Linked DNA regions of Homo sapiens. The protein of the gene in region 2 binds, or shares a complex with, the protein of the main gene of each other region. Each region holds a gene or a part of one and is shown on either strand. Other genes may lie near its edges.

Region 1 (3,811 bases), on a different chromosome or scaffold from region 2:
CTGCGAAGCACTAAACCAACCATGTCCTGCAGCCCCAAACCCAAACTGTCTTAGGCTTAAAATTCGAATCCCATAATATCATTAATCTGGTCCCATGAGTTACCTTTACCCTGTAAACCAGAGGTTCTGTTTACAACCTACACCACTTTCAACAGTCAACATGATTTTTACCCATCTTGGAGGATCATGGGAAAGCAGATATATCTGTCCTCCTCGTAAGTGTGAGTTGAGATTGTGTTGAGCTTTGTTTTCTGTAGTTTATATTAGGAACACTATAAGATTTTTTCTTTCCCTAATATGAAATATTTCAATGAATATGCTTGTCAAACTACACATTTCCGTTCTCTCCCTGGCTGGAAGATCACTGCTTTAGAAGGTCTCACGCAGAGTGAAGGGCAATCTCCACAACTCCAAAGTGAGCCCCTCCAAGTGCCCACTCAGGAGTCAGAGTCAGAGCTCTTTCCCAGCCCCACTTCACAGAGACAGCAGCGGGGTGAGGGACAAACAACAGCCAAGGAAAGAAGAACCAAGGGTGGCGAGGAGAACCCCTTACCTGGGAAGGGTGAAACACCACGCTGGTGACCTTCTTGGTATGGCCTTTGAGGGTAGCCAGGATTTGTTCAGAACTTTTGTCAAACACAACGACATTTTTATCCGCCCCACCTGGAGAAGACCCAAAAAGACCAAACAATGAGTCAGGCCCACCCAGGCCCTTTTGCTCAAGGAAATGCTTTTGTTCCCATGCCCATGAAGAGGACAAGGAGCATGCGCCTTCCCTGCTGCCCCTCCCCACTTTGGCCTGCCGGGCTAGGCCCAGACTCTCACCAGTGAGGATCTTGTTGGTGTCGGACGGGCAGAGGTCCAGGGCCAGGATCCCAGGAATGCTGGCACTGTGCAACCCCTTTGCAGAGAGACACACCAAACCCTGTCACGGCCAAATCACAGCAGGCCACAAAGCCACAGACCTCCCCTACTGCCATCTCCAGTCACCCATGTTCTCAGGGGAGCAAGAGTTACTTCTATTCCTTATCCATACCTCTTGGCTATCTGCCTGGTACGGTAACTCCCTCACTGCATCACTAGGAAACCCACAGCTGGGCAGAAAGAGGAGCCCTGACAACTCAGCAGCCCAGGCGAGAAACAGCACCAGGAACAGCGCCAGGAACCTGGGACAGCTCTGCACTCAGCACTCCCCATGCTGGCCCGCCCACCCCAGAAACAAAACGGGAGGGCTGTCTCCAAGACAGTGGAGACCCAGACACTCACCACGTGGGATGCCACCTGCCGGTATTTGCTGAGCTCTTCTGGCTTCACCAGCTCCTCAGGCACAGTCTTCCCTCTCTGAGAAAATGAAAAGCCCCCAAAGAAGAGCAGCAATGAATCCAAGATTCAGCCGCCCTCTCTCTCCTAAGGAGTCAACCGCCTCCCACCAGGCCAGCTCTTTCTCCAGGCTTCAGAAAGAGAACTCACCTTCTTGCGCTCCGTGGTTAGCACAGTGGCTTTGTCTTGAAGCTGGGGAAGAACAGGCTCAATGTGAGACAAATCATCTTGCAAGGAGAAAAGTACATTAGATGCTGGTCACACCTGTGCTTTCAAAAGCAGCACCAAGAACTTGCTATCTGCCAACTTCTACGTTACAGGCTTAAAGGCATTCTCTCTTCTTACTTCCATCCCAGCTTTATGAGGGGGGTGTTGATGACCTTATTTTACAGCTGAGGAAACTGAGCCTCAGAGAAGTGAAGTCAATTGCCCAAGGTCGCAGAGGTGATAAACAGCAGAGCAAGAATAGAAGCTAGGACTGTAGAGCTCCCATAGGTCTACACGCCACTAAGCCAAGGGCTCAGACACATGCTGACAATTTGAACTGCTCAGAAAGACACTAAGAAGCCCTGCAAATGAGAATCCCACTGGACTTGCAATCAGGAAGCCCAGCTCTGCCTCTCAGATGTGTCTTTCATCTGCAAAATAAGGATTATAATTCCTATCCTATTGCCCTCATAGAAAAAAAACAAGAAAATATATAAAAGTAGTTTACTATCTGCAAAGAATCTCAATAACAATAAGAGCTAAAAGGTGCACTTATCAGTAATGAAATCTTTTAAATTCCCACAGCCTGCCTATACAGTGGATATGATCATATTCTCAGTTTAGAAGCTAGGGAAATGAGACACGTAAGGGTTGGCTAAGTAAGCCAAGGTCATAAAGCTTACAAGTAGTGGCATCAAAATACAAACCCAGGCAATCTGGTCCCAGGGTCCATGCTCTGCACCACTCAACTCCCAAAAGCACAGTGATTTTAGTCACGATGGACTCCAGACAGATGGTGAAAAGTAAGGGCCCATCAGCACTCCCACCAGGTGAGAGCAGGACTTACCTTCTGAATAATCTCTGGGGTCATTCCCACCAGCTCACCCAAATCCATTGGCTCACCCGCACCCTGAAGAGAAGAAAGGTGAGGGTGAGAGGCACAGAGCACCAAAGACACCTGCATAAGGACAGTTCTGTGGGCCACTGTACACAAATGGGCTGCTGGTAAGGGAAGGGGGACACTTACCACAACACTTGGTTGGGAACTTGGCACAGCCTGGGGCACAATGAGGCCAGCCTGTGGTTTCAGGGTAGCCAGAGCTGAGAGAAAAGACGATGTTAGAAATGGGATATTACAATGCAGAACCAGCCCAGGGTGGGGGATGGCAGGGGAGAGGCTGCACCTTCTCGGGCAGCAGTGACTTCCTTGGTGAGACGGGCAATGACACGGCAGGCGGCATCGTGCTGGTACAGAGCGTGTGACAGCTCTTGGCGGGTTGTCTGCAGCTGCTGGCGCAGAGTGAAGCTGTGCAGCATGACTGCATCCTGGGAGAAGCAAATATCATTGTAAGGTGAGGTGGGGGGTGCAGGGAGTACCCAGTGGAGTCAGCCCTTGGGGAGGGGATGCTGCCTCCTATCCCAGAGCCTAGACCAGTATCAGTGACCCAAACAATATCCGAGCAAACACGAATGTGCCGGCAGACACTCTTGAGCTCCTACCCCAAGCGAACCACTGGGCACACAGACAGGAGTGGGAGCCAGCTCTTTCCCATCCCCACCTTCCCTAACTTACTGGCAAATCCCAGCTGTCATGCCGTCCCCTCTCTAAAAGAGAATAACAACACTGCTGCTGCTGCTATTTATTGATCGCCCTCGTTGTGTCAGGCACTGTGCCAGACAGTCCTGCAGGATGTATTCAATCATTCAATTCATAACTCTAGAGCACCTACTATGTACCAGGTGCTGCTCTCAGTGCTGGGGATACAACGAAGAATAAAACAAATCCCTGATGTCACAAAGTTTACCCTCTAAATAATGCTCCATCCTTCCTACCCCCAAGTCCTAACCCAGCAATGCATTCTCTTCAAGTGGGGAAGATGCTGATTCTCTTGCAGGAACTCACCCACTCATCCTGCAAAGCTTTCAGAATGGCCGGGATGCTGGTGGCTGAGGGAGGCTTGGGCCGGATTGGGTGAGCAACTGCCGAAAGGGAAAGCAGGTATGAAGAACATAACCCAGGGGCCTCCCCCGCCATCACATCTTTTCCTTTTAGCCATAAACAGCCCACCATCTCTTCCTCCAGTGCACTGGCACCACCTCCCATCCTCTCAGGCTCTGAGCTAAGATGGCCCTAGACTAAGGCAGCCAATAGGCACCTTTGATGTCGATGAGCTGCTCCTCGGAGAGAGGCTGGTTGTTGATGGGGTCGGTACCATTCTCCGCAATGTACTTCTCGATGAGCCGCCGCTCATAAACATGATTAGAGACAGGGGATACACATGGG
Region 2 (3,811 bases):
TTAGTCTCCCGAGTAGCTGGGATTATAGGCACCTGCCACCATGCCCAGCTAATTTTGTATTTTCTTCTTCTTTTTTTTTTTATTTTTTATTTTTTAATTTTATTTTTTTAGACAGAGCCTCACTCTGTTGCCCAGGCTGGAGTGCAATGGCGCGATCTCAGTTCACTGCAAGCTCCGCCTCCTGGGTTCACGCCATTCTCCTGCCTCAGCCTCCCAAGTAGCTGGGATTACAGGTGCCCGCCACCATGCCCAGCTAATTTTTTGTATTTTTTTTTAGCAGAGACGGGGTTTCACCATGTTAGCCAGGATGGTCTTGATCTCCTGACCTTGTGATCCGCCCGCCTCAGCCTCCCAAAGTGCTGGGATTACAGGCATGAGCCACCGCACCTGGCCTAAAAAAATAAAAAAATTTTTAAGGCCGGAAAGGAACATACCAAACAGATAATAATGGTTATCAGTTACCTCTAGGAGGGGCACTGGGATGAGTGTAGAGGTAAGAGGACTTTAACTCTATCTGTGCTATTTGAATTATAACCAGTAAAATTCACTTATGCATTTTCTTTCTAAAACAAAAATCTTTTCAATAGATGACAAAAAAGGAAAAATAAATTTAAAAACCCAAAACTCTATCACTGGAATAAGCAAAAATATATTTAGAAAAATGTAAATGCAAAAAACCTAACATATAGAGCATAATCACAATATAGGAGCCACCCCAACACAACCCTTTAGAAACTGGAAGGAACAGCCAGGCGAGGTGGCTCACTCCTGTAATCCTAGCGCTTTGGGAGGCCGAGGTGGGCAGATCATGACATCAAGCGTTTGAGACCGGCCGGGAGCAGTGGGATGTTATCCCAGCACTTTGGGAGGCCGAGGCGGGCGGATCACGAGGTCAGGAGATAGAGACCATCCTGGCTAACACGGTGAAACCCCGTCTCTACTAAAAAAATACAAAAACTTTGCCGGGCGTGGTGGCGGTCACCTATAGTCCCAGCTACTCGGGAGGCTGAGGCAGGAGAATGGCGTAAACCCGGGAGGCAGAGCTTACAGCAGTGTGCCGAGATCGCATCACTGCACTCCAGCCTGGGCAACACAGCAAGACTCCATGTCAAAAAAAAAAAAAAAAAAAAAACTCGAGACCACCCTGGCCAACATAGGGAAACCCTGTCTCCACTAAAAATACAAATTAGTACTGGGCACAGTGGCTCACGCCTGTAATCCCAGCATTTTGGGAGACCAAGGCGGGCGGATCACAAGGTCAGGAGATTGAGACCATCCTGGTTAACATGGTGAAACCCCGTCTCTACTAAAAAAACACAAAAACTTTGCCGGGCATGGTGGCGGGCGCCTATAGTACCAGCTACTCAGGAGCCTGAGGCAGGAGAATGGCGTGAACCTGGGAGGCAGAGCTTGCAGCAGTAAGCCGAGATTGCGTCACTGTACTCCAGCCTGGGCAACAGAGCAAAACTCCATCTCAAAAAAAAAAGAGCTCGAGACCACCCTGGCACCAACACAGTGAAACCCTGTCTCTACTAAAAATACAAATTAGTACTGGTCACGGTGGCTCACGCCTGTAATCCCAGCACTTTGGGAAGCTGAGGCAGGTGGATCACGAGGTCAGGAGATCGAGACCATCCTGGCTAACACGGTGAAACCCCGTCTCTACTAAAAATACAAAAAAAAAATAAAATTAGCTGGGCATGGTGGCAGATGCCTGTAGTCCCAGCTACTCAGGAGGCTGAGGCAGGAGAATGGTGTGAACCCAGGAGGTGGAGCTTGCAGTGAGCCAAGATTGGGCCACTGTACTCCAGCCTTGGTGACAGAGCGAGACTCCATCTCAAAAACAAAAAAAAGATACAAATTAGCTGGGCATGGTGGCATGCGCCTGTAGTCCCAGCTACTTGGGAGGCTGAGGCAGGAGAATTACTTGAACCCGGGAGGCAGAGGTTGCAGTGAGCCGAGATTGCACAACTACACTCCAGCCTGCGCAACAGAGCAAGACTCCATCTCAAAAAAAAAAAAAGAAAGAAAGAAAGAAAGAAACTGGAGGGAACAATGCCCTAATGTATTAACAATCATCACATATGAGGTGTGAAAATGTGAGTGGTTTTTTTCTGATTTTCTGTATTTTATAACTTTTTTTTGTTTGAGATGGAGTCCTGCTCTGCTGCCCAGGCTGGAGCGCAGTGGGACGATCTCGGCTCACTGCAACCTCTGCCTCCCAGGTTCAAGTGATTCTCCTGCCTCAGCCTCCTGAGTAGCTGGGATTACAGGTGCCTGCCATATGCCCAGCTAATTTTTTTTGTATTTTTAGTAGAGACAGGGTTTCACCATGTTGGCCAGGCTGGTCTCGAACTCCTGACCTTGTGATTCTCCCGCCTCAGGCTCCCAAAGTGCTGGGATTACAGGCATGAGCCACTGCGCCTGGCTATAACTCCTCTGTAGTAAAAAATATATTCCTTCATAATTAATGGCACAATATTTAAACTCTGAATTATTTTTAAGGGATGGTAGTGGCCTATGCAAAACTAGCTGTGGAATAATGAATTTTAAAATAAGCAGCATTTAATAAAAATAGAACTATATTTTTTTTAAAATAGAAAAGCCAACTAGAAGGAGATATAACAAAATGCTAATAATGGTGAAAATACTGGCATCATTCTTCTCTGCCTCTCATACTTTTTCCTATGAAGTGTTGACTACCTTTCTAAAACACAAAATCAAAACCGACTAAAACTCCAGACTAACAGTTTCAAATTATATTCAGGAGGTTTGGCTGAAAGAAGGAGGAAAGGTGGGTGTGCCCTATTTGGATTCACACAAAAGTAGCTCCACTTTTCTCCTTTTTTTTTTTTGAGATGGAGTTTCGCTCTTGCTGTCCAGGCTGGAGTGCAATGGCACGATCTCGGCTCACCGCAACCTCCACCCCTCAGATTCAAGCAATTCTCCTGTCTCAGTCTCCTGAGTAGCTGGGAGTACAGGCATGCACCACCATGCCCAGCTAATTTTGTATGTTTAGTGGAGACGGGGTTTCTCCATGTTGGTCAAGCTGGTCTCTAACTCCCTACCTCAGGTGATCCGCCCACCTCAGCCTCCCAAAGTGCTGGGATTACAGGCATGAGCCACAGTGCTGGGCCTCACTTTTCTCCATTTTTACATTTAGGGTTTGGCCCAAGATTGTATTTGTTCTTTGGTTATCATTTGTTCAACTAATAAGTAACTGAAACATGACCTGATTCAATGAACTTCAGAGCCTGCCCCAATCGTTCTGGGAAACTTCAAATAGGGAAACTCCTTGTCCAGACTGACAGATTAGCACCTGCCAAAGGCAGAATCCTGCACCAGCCAATCCTGGGCACACTTTCCAGCCCCAATTGTATGGCATGGGCCTATGATTCTATCCCAGTTCTTAAGAATTCTCAGTTAAAATCTGGGAACAATAATTCCTACACTATAAGGCTGTTATGCAACTAAGAAAAAAAAGTAAGAGCAGTTAGCATATAGCATATCTACTCTTATGATTATTACCAATGAAAGGCTAAAACTGTCACAAACTTACTTACGTTCTTTTTCAAACAGCTCTCTAACACCAGGCAAATCTTTTGCTGCTCCAAAGTACTTGTAACCTCGGTTTCCTGGGACTTCTTTTCCTTCATGATCCAGCATTTTAGGGCCAACTTTCTTATTGGGAAGAAAAAAAGAGAAAATGGATCTGTTAGTTAGTTAGTTAGTTATTATTTATTTATTTATTTGAGGCGGAGTCTCGCTCTGTTGCCCATTTATTTATTTGAGGTGGAGTCTCGCTCTGTTG

The links.
Region 1: ISY1 (region 2) and PRPF19 share a complex: the UniProt entries of both Homo sapiens proteins name them as parts of the XAB2 complex.

The regions. Positions count from the first base shown.
Region 1 is NC_000011.10:60,900,029-60,903,839, forward strand, and holds part of PRPF19 (pre-mRNA-processing factor 19), read right to left. Parts: coding exon 3,684-3,811; intron 3,508-3,683; coding exon 3,431-3,507; intron 2,854-3,430; coding exon 2,712-2,853; intron 2,629-2,711; coding exon 2,555-2,628; intron 2,438-2,554; coding exon 2,375-2,437; intron 1,513-2,374; coding exon 1,471-1,512; intron 1,342-1,470; coding exon 1,267-1,341; intron 902-1,266; coding exon 826-901; intron 664-825; coding exon 554-663; intron 1-553. UniProt on the Homo sapiens protein: Ubiquitin-protein ligase which is a core component of several complexes mainly involved pre-mRNA splicing and DNA repair. Required for pre-mRNA splicing as component of the spliceosome.
Region 2 is NC_000003.12:129,136,805-129,140,615, forward strand, and holds part of ISY1 (pre-mRNA-splicing factor ISY1 homolog), read right to left. Parts: intron 3,682-3,811; coding exon 3,564-3,681; intron 393-3,563; coding exon of another isoform or gene 327-392; intron 1-326. Other genes in the region: ISY1-RAB43 protein, read right to left, coding at 3,564-3,681. UniProt on the Homo sapiens protein: Component of the spliceosome C complex required for the selective processing of microRNAs during embryonic stem cell differentiation. Required for the biogenesis of all miRNAs from the pri-miR-17-92 primary transcript except miR-92a.